2 linked regions of the Homo sapiens genome follow. The gene in region 2 interacts genetically with the main gene of each other region. Each region holds a gene or a part of one and is shown on either strand. Other genes may lie near its edges.

Region 1 (3,077 bases), on a different chromosome or scaffold from region 2:
GCGCGGGCCGCGGAGACCCCGGCTGGGCGGGAAGGAAGGGGCGTGAACGGCTCTCAGCTTCGGGCTCCTGAGGACAACGATCACTCGCCCTCAGTCCCGGACGGGGCGGCCGCTTAGTCGCAGGGCCCGCCACCCGAGGGTCGCGCAGCCCACTGGGCCCGATGGAGCCGCCGCGTGCCGGGCGCGTGCGCGAGCTCGCCCGGGCGGGGGCCGCGGGGCGCTAACGGTCGCAGACGAGTTCGCCGCCCTGGGCCGGGAGGCGGCTCAACACCGTGACTGCCGACCTCCGAGACCGTTTACCTCACTGCGGCGTGTGCTGGCGGCAGCCCGCGCCGCCTCCGAGCAATAACCGCGCCGCCACCGCTGCTGCCGCCGGCCCTGAGGGAGCCGGCCCCGGCCCTCCCGCGCCCCGAGTCCCCACTGCCCTCCGCATGTCAACGGCGCCCGCCCCGCTGCCGCCCCATCCACGTTGAGACGCGAACAAAACCCAGACGGCCAGGTCCAAGCTTCCCAAGCTTTATTTATTGCCAAATTTGGGCGGCCTCGCCCGCACGGCACCCTCCGAGTCCCCGCCGCGTCTGCACCATCCCGCGATGGCGTTTCTCGTGTTTTTCTTTTCTGGATGATATAAATATTGACCGCACACTCCTGCTTGCTCCGGGTTTTCTCTGGGGTCCCAAGAGCGCAGTGGCCTTGGGGGAGAGGTGAGGGTCCTGCCCTCCGGCCGGGCCGCCAAAGCAGGGTGACCCGAGAGCGCAAAGGCGGCCGCGACGTGAGCCCGACCCCACAGCCCCCCTGCCACCCAGCAGCTCCCAAACACCCCTCACAGCCACAGCTCAAATCCACCTTTTATTTTTTCTTAAAAAAAAAAAGAAAAAAAGAAAATGGAACCAACCAAACAAAAAACCAAAGCGGCCGCGCGGCTTCCAGGTGGCGCTGCATGCATGGCGGGGTCAGGAGCCTGGTCTCCACACCCGCCAGCTGGTCTGCGGCGGGGCCGCCGGACGGCGCTGGGCGCCCTGCGGAGCACGAGGCCACGGGCGGGGCCAGTAGTCTCCACATAAAGTGCATGGAGGCCGCCTCCCTCCTCCCACGCCCGCCCGGGAAGGCTCCGCCCGGGGCTGCGAAGTCAACAAGCCGCGTGCACTGCCGGGCGGCCGAGGGGGGAGGGCTGCGCCCGGTCCCTGCTGTCCCCCTGCCCGGCCCTGCAGGGCGCTCCGGAGGTCCTGGGGCGTGGTCGGCACAGAAGCATGGCGGCCACCTCTCCGGGAGGGCGGGCGGAACCGGCAGGAAGACTGAGGGCCTGGCGCGGGCACCTGGCGGGGCTCCTGGACACGGGCTGCAGGGTGGAAGGAAGACGGAAGAGGTCAGCCTGGGCACCGGTTCTCCGCCTCCCGCGGGCCCCTGGGAGGATGGAGAAGCTGAGGTACAGTCATGGGGCTACCGGACTCCTGGGGGGCAGCAGGGGAGGCCAGGGAAGGCCACCCTTGAGTCACTCCCGGGGTACATTGTGTGGCCTTTTGCAGTGGGGCCTGGCGGGCTCTGACGCTGGTGGATGGGCTGTGGGCACCCATTTGGGGGACAGACATGTAACTCAGGCGGTGGCCCCCAAAACCTGGGAGAGGGGCTGTGGCAAGGCAGGGGCTTCAGCCTCGGGCCCCCATCCACCCCGCATCCTCGGCAGGTGACTTAAGGGTCTCTGACACCTCTGGGACTCCGTCTCCCACCCGGGGCTGGGGCTGGGGCTGGGAGAGGAGGCAGGCACACAGGGAGAGACAGGGCAGCGTCCGGCACGACTCAGCCTCAGCCATACTTGGCAGCTGGCTCAGAGCCTGCGGCACCCCGGCAGAGCCATGGAGGCCGCGGCCCCTCCCCACCACCCACCACCCACTGGTGCTCAAAAGCCTCTGGGCTGAGCCCAGCATAAGCCTTTCCTGGAAGCGGCGCGGGCATGGGGAGGGGGCGCCAGGCCCAGGGCAGGGTCCTCGGAATGCACCCACTCTGAGAGGTGGCTGTGAGGACGGCACGCCCCCCCAGAGCCCCGCCACACGTAGGCCTCCATGACCAGCACGCTGGCCAGACACCAGGCCCCGAGACGGCACCCTCCACGGGGATCGCTACGTGGCCAAGCCACCCAAAGGCCACATGGCAACCACGCGCAGCCACGTGACGGTCACCATGACTGACTAGCGCGGGCTATGCTCACGGCTGGCTGTGGCATCCAGGCGTTGTCCCCACATGCCCCACCCGGGCCCCGCCGCGCCCCACCTGCAGGCGGCCAGCCTCACTGCTGCTTGCAGGCCGACAGCCGGCGGATCTTGCTGCTGGCGGAGCAGGCCTTGCGGGCAGGGTTGGGGGCCCGGCCCTCCGCCCTGGATTTGGTGCTCAGCTGCGCCGCCTCTGTGCCGTTCATACACACGGCCTTGGGGAGGCCCCGGCGCTGTCCATTGTGACTGGCCTCCTCTTCTGGGACCTGTCCTGGGAGGGAGACGGCAAGTGTGGCCTGAGCTGAGGGGCGCAACCCCAGAGCCACAGGGACCTGGCTGGCCCCCACCACGGGGACGCACTTACAGCTGCTGCCCAGGCCATGCCCGCCCCCGGGTCAGGCCCAGGTGTATCCAGCCTGAAATGCTGCCCCCCAGCAGCTCTGGGAGGCACCCCCCGGGGCTGAGCCTCCCGCAGATGGCCTGGGCAGGAGTGTCCCCTCCACCACGTCTGTTGCACCTGCCATGGCCGCAGGTGGGACCCCACCCAGGTACTGACTGCAGGAACCTCACGAGTAGGAGGCAAGCTGACAAGGCAGGACCCTCCCGTGCTCCCCTGGGGCACCCTGGCCCATGGTTGGTTCTAGAGGCCCAGGAGCCGCCACATGCTCATCTGTGAGGACACAGGAGGGCCAGGCTCGGGCCAGGCTCAGGCCAGGCACGCGAAATGCCAGCACAGAACCACGCGGGGAGCAGAGCTCAGCCTGCCAGGGCCCCCAGCTGCCCCCAGTCCCTGCTAGCCACCAACCATCACCAGCACCCTGGTGAAACCCACAGGCCTGGGGCTGCCCACCCTGCCCAGGTGGACACTGT
Region 2 (4,106 bases):
GGAGGAAAAAGTTGGGTTGAAGAAAGAACGCTGAACCTGGTCAACATGAAAGAACCCCTCTCTACTGAAAATACAAAAAAGTAGCAGTGTGTGGTGGCCCGCGGGAGGCTGAGGTGGGAGGATGGCTTGAGCCAAGGAGGTTGAGGACGCAGTGAGCCGAAATTGCGCCTCTGCACCCCAGCCTGGGCGACAGAGCGAGACCCTGTCTCAGAAATAAATAAACAGATAAAATTTTAAAAAAGAAACCTGGAAGACAGATAAATGGTGGAAGAGAAACTGGTGAGAGTGAAGAGGAACAGGAAAAAAATCGGGGAAAACCTTTATGTTTATTTCCTACTGTGTAATATGGCACAATATTGTGCTGTACAGTATTGGCCAGCATTTTGTCAACAATCTTTACTTTCTAGAGTCAAGAAATATCTTAAAAGTATAAGAATTGTAGTAAATGTTAGTCTTAGAATTTTGAGATTTGGTGTTCTCCAGGTCGAATGAATGCTCCCTGATCTAGCCTCCCACGGTATATTTCTGTGTCTTTTCTTTCATAAATGCGTGAATGACTCCGGTCTTTGTTATTGGTGGTAGTGTCTCTTGTCCGGAAGCACGGAGAGTACGCATTCATTTCTGTATTTCCCAAGTTTCAGCCACATAATGACCGAAACTTAACAAGTTACTTAACCTCTCCAAACTCCAATATCTTCAAAATAGGATTTGCAAAATGGGAATCACTTTGGCTTTCATAAGGTGGTTGTTAGCCGAAAAGAAAAAATGTGCTTAACACAGTGACGGGAATGCACAGTGGTTGACAATTGGTACTTGCACCGGGCTTAGTGGCTCACGCCTATAATCCCAGCACTTTGGGAGAACGAGGTGGGCGGATCGCTTGAGATCAGGTTCGAGACCAGCCTGGGCAACGTAGGGAAACCCAGTCTCCACAAAAAATACACAAGTTAGACGGTCATGGTGGCGCGCGCCTGTAGCCCCAGCTACTTGGGGGACTGAGGCGGGATGATAGGTTGAGTCTGGGAGTTCGAGGCTGCAGTGAGCCATGATCTCACCACTGCACTCCAACCTGGGCGACAGAGCGAGACCCTGTCTCGAAATTATTTTATTTATTTTATTTTATTTTATTTTTTATTTTGAGACGAAGTTTCACTCTTGTTGCCTAGGCTGGAGTGCAATGATGCGATCTTGGCTCACCGCAACCTCCGCCTCCCGGGTTCAAGCGATTCTCCTGCCTCAGCCTACCGAGTAGCTGGGATTACAGGCGCGCGCCACTACGGCCGGCTAATTTTTGTATTTTCAGTACAGACCTGGTTACTCAATGTTGGTCAGGCTGGTCTCGAACTCCCGACCTCAAGTGATCCGCCCACCTTGGCCTCCCAAAGTGCTGGGATTACAGGCTTGAGCCACCGCGCCCGGCCTCTTATTTTAATTTTTAAAAAGGTACCTGCGAGTTTTAAACAGCTACTCTGGGGCCAGCGTGCTTTTTGATGCGTGCAGGTAAGGATCATTCTGTCCATCTCCTGACACAGAGAAGTCAAAACCTCCGTCCTGGGGTTCGGTCAGTTAGTGGGTCAGATAATCATCTCAGCTCAACCACTACTCCCAACCAGCAGCGGCCACGTCCCCGCGTCGCCCTCAAAGACTACAAGTCCCAGCGTGCCGCGCTCTGGGCCGTGGAAGCCCCGCCTTTTCCGGCGGGCCCCGCTTCCTCGTTGCCCCCGCCGCGGGCGCGAGATGGATTCCGGGTGCTGGTTGTTCGGCGGCGAGTTCGAGGACTCGGTGTTCGAGGAGAGGCCGGAGCGGCGGTCAGGACCGCCCGCGTCCTACTGCGCCAAGCTCTGCGAGCCGCAGGTGAGAAGCTGGGGCCTCTTCGCCTTATCCCGGGCCCCAGGCCTCGCCCTCCGCGGGGCCCCGGCCCCGGCCTCGGCCCCTCCGTCCGCGCGAACGCAAACCCTGGCAGGCTCCAGCGCCCGCCGCGTCCCCCGCCGTCCCTCCTCCTCCACGGGGAAGCGGCTTTCCCAGGCCCCATTCCGGGTCCATGGGCGAGAATCCCCGCGTTGTAAGCGGCTTGACTCCCACTTGGCATTTGGCCGGCCTGGCTGCTGCCGGCTGGTCTCAACGCCCCTGCCCTGCAATCTCCGGTACCTCCCGTTTGTCTTCACTGCTCTTACAGCTGGGCAGTCAGGCCTCCCAAAACGGTGACCTCCGGCAAACCCACTCTCCCCTCCCTCTTCGGCGAGCTCCCCCTGCCCGTACCAACCCCGCGCTGATGGTTAAAGTCCTTCAGTTATATCCGTTTTTCAAGGCACATCTTAAATGTCATCTCCTCTAGGAAGTCTTTTCTGATTTCGTCTTCCAGCCAAATATTTTTGTCTTTGGCCCCCTTCCCTCTATTTAGCTTCTACTTAAAGCACTTGTCAGTATTCCCACAAAGTCCTGAGACCCGGAGTGCTAAATGATCGCACCAGCATGGGTTCTTGATGCCCTTGGCAGTGCCTAACAGTTTTTATTAATAATAGTGACTCCGCGAATATTTTTGAATTAGTAGAGTATTACTTCCTATTCTTTCATGAGTGTAAATAGTTCATCAGTCAAAACTAATATTTATGGAAAATACGGAAGTGTTCCGGGCACTGTGGTGGGTTCCTTCGCATATACTGTCTCATTCGTTCCTCACAATTGTACTGACAAGATGCCAGGCACTCGATAATTACTGAATTGTGTTTTTGGTTATTTCAGTTGCATTTTCTCCTTATCACATACGATCTTTCAAAGTTACCTTCAGCCCTGGATCATGTAGACTCAAAACAGGGATTGGGCTTGGAAATCATGTGGCAGAACATTAAAAAAACTCTGGTTATGAGATAGGACTCTTGAATTCCAGTGTTGGCTTTAACCACTTGCCTTGAAGGTGTCAGCTCCTTATTTGTCCCTTCAGAAAAATAATACATGCTGGCTCACAGAGTTATCGTGGGAGTGAAATGAGATAATGTATATGAAAATACTTTGTCAGATCTGATGTGCTGTACAGGTGCATAGAATTTAATATAAATTCTAAAATGAAGTGATTTTTTTCTTTTCTTTTTTTTTTTTTTGAGGTGGAGTTTGTTGCCCATGCTGGAGTGCAGTGGCGCGATCTCGGGTCACCCCAACCTCCACCTCCCGGGTTAAAGCGATTCTCCTGCCTCAGCCTCCCAGCTAGCTGGGATTACAGACGTGTGCCACCATGCCGGCCTAATTTTGTATTTTTAGTAGAGACAGGGTTTCTCTACTGTTGTTAGCCAGGCTGGTCTCAAACTCCTAACCTCAAGTGATCTGCCCGCCTCGGCCTCCCAAATTGCTGGGATTACAGGTGTAAGCCACTGCCTTTCCCTACGTTATTTATTCAATAGTCAAGCAATCTCAGTCTCACTTTCCTTTTTATCCATAGGATTTAAATCAGTAGAAAAGCAAATAAAGTATCCTAGATGGGCATTTCCTCAGACTTCTCTCCTACAGGTTTTTGGTATTTGGTTGCATTGGAGCCTCCTTCTAGCCTTAATTTCTGTCTCCTTTGCTGAAATTCTAGTTTTTTGCCATTATGACATTTTCATAATAGCACCATATCTATAATTCTTCTTTCCTATGTCCTTTCAGTAAAGAATTGTCAATCCCTATTCCAGTCACACTAAAGTTTATCTACAAGAAAGCATGTCTCATTTTAAAGAACCAATGTGGGCTGGGTGCGGTGGCTCACACCTGTAATCCCAGCACTTTGGGAGGCCAAGGTGGGCAGAGGCAGGATCACTTGTGCTCAGGAGTTCAAGACTAACCTGGCCAGACTCTTGAAGAAGTCTTTTTTTGACGTTTAATCAATTATATTATGGGAAATTGCTTCTGAATATGAGGTGGAAAAGCATAGCTCACTCTGTAATAGGCTATTTTCATGATTTCAAGTGGTTTTATGAAGAAACAGAAAGCAGTGATGATGTTGAAGTGCTGACTCTCAAGAAATTCAAAGGAGACCTGGCCTACAGACGACAAGAGTATCAGGTAGAATTCAACATATGGTGCTTGAAGTGGGCTCTTGTTTTATCAGTTATGGCATATGTAAATAACAGTGT

The links.
Region 1: changes in C8orf76 (region 2) and STK11 together harm fitness more than expected from each alone (negative genetic interaction), as found in Homo sapiens cells (one large-scale study listed by BioGRID).

What each region holds. Positions count from the first base shown.
Region 1 is NC_000019.10:1,225,855-1,228,931, reverse strand, and holds the end of STK11 (serine/threonine-protein kinase STK11), read right to left. Parts: intron 2,479-3,077; coding exon 2,285-2,478; 3' UTR 2,269-2,284; intron 1,340-2,268; 3' UTR 501-1,339; downstream 1-500. UniProt on the Homo sapiens protein: Tumor suppressor serine/threonine-protein kinase that controls the activity of AMP-activated protein kinase (AMPK) family members, thereby playing a role in various processes such as cell metabolism, cell polarity, apoptosis and DNA damage response.
Region 2 is NC_000008.11:123,238,978-123,243,083, reverse strand, and holds the start of C8orf76 (uncharacterized protein C8orf76), read left to right. Parts: upstream 1-1,706; 5' UTR 1,707-1,737; coding exon 1,738-1,854; intron 1,855-3,939; coding exon 3,940-4,035; intron 4,036-4,106. Other genes in the region: ZHX1-C8orf76 (zinc fingers and homeoboxes protein 1), read left to right, coding at 3,940-4,035.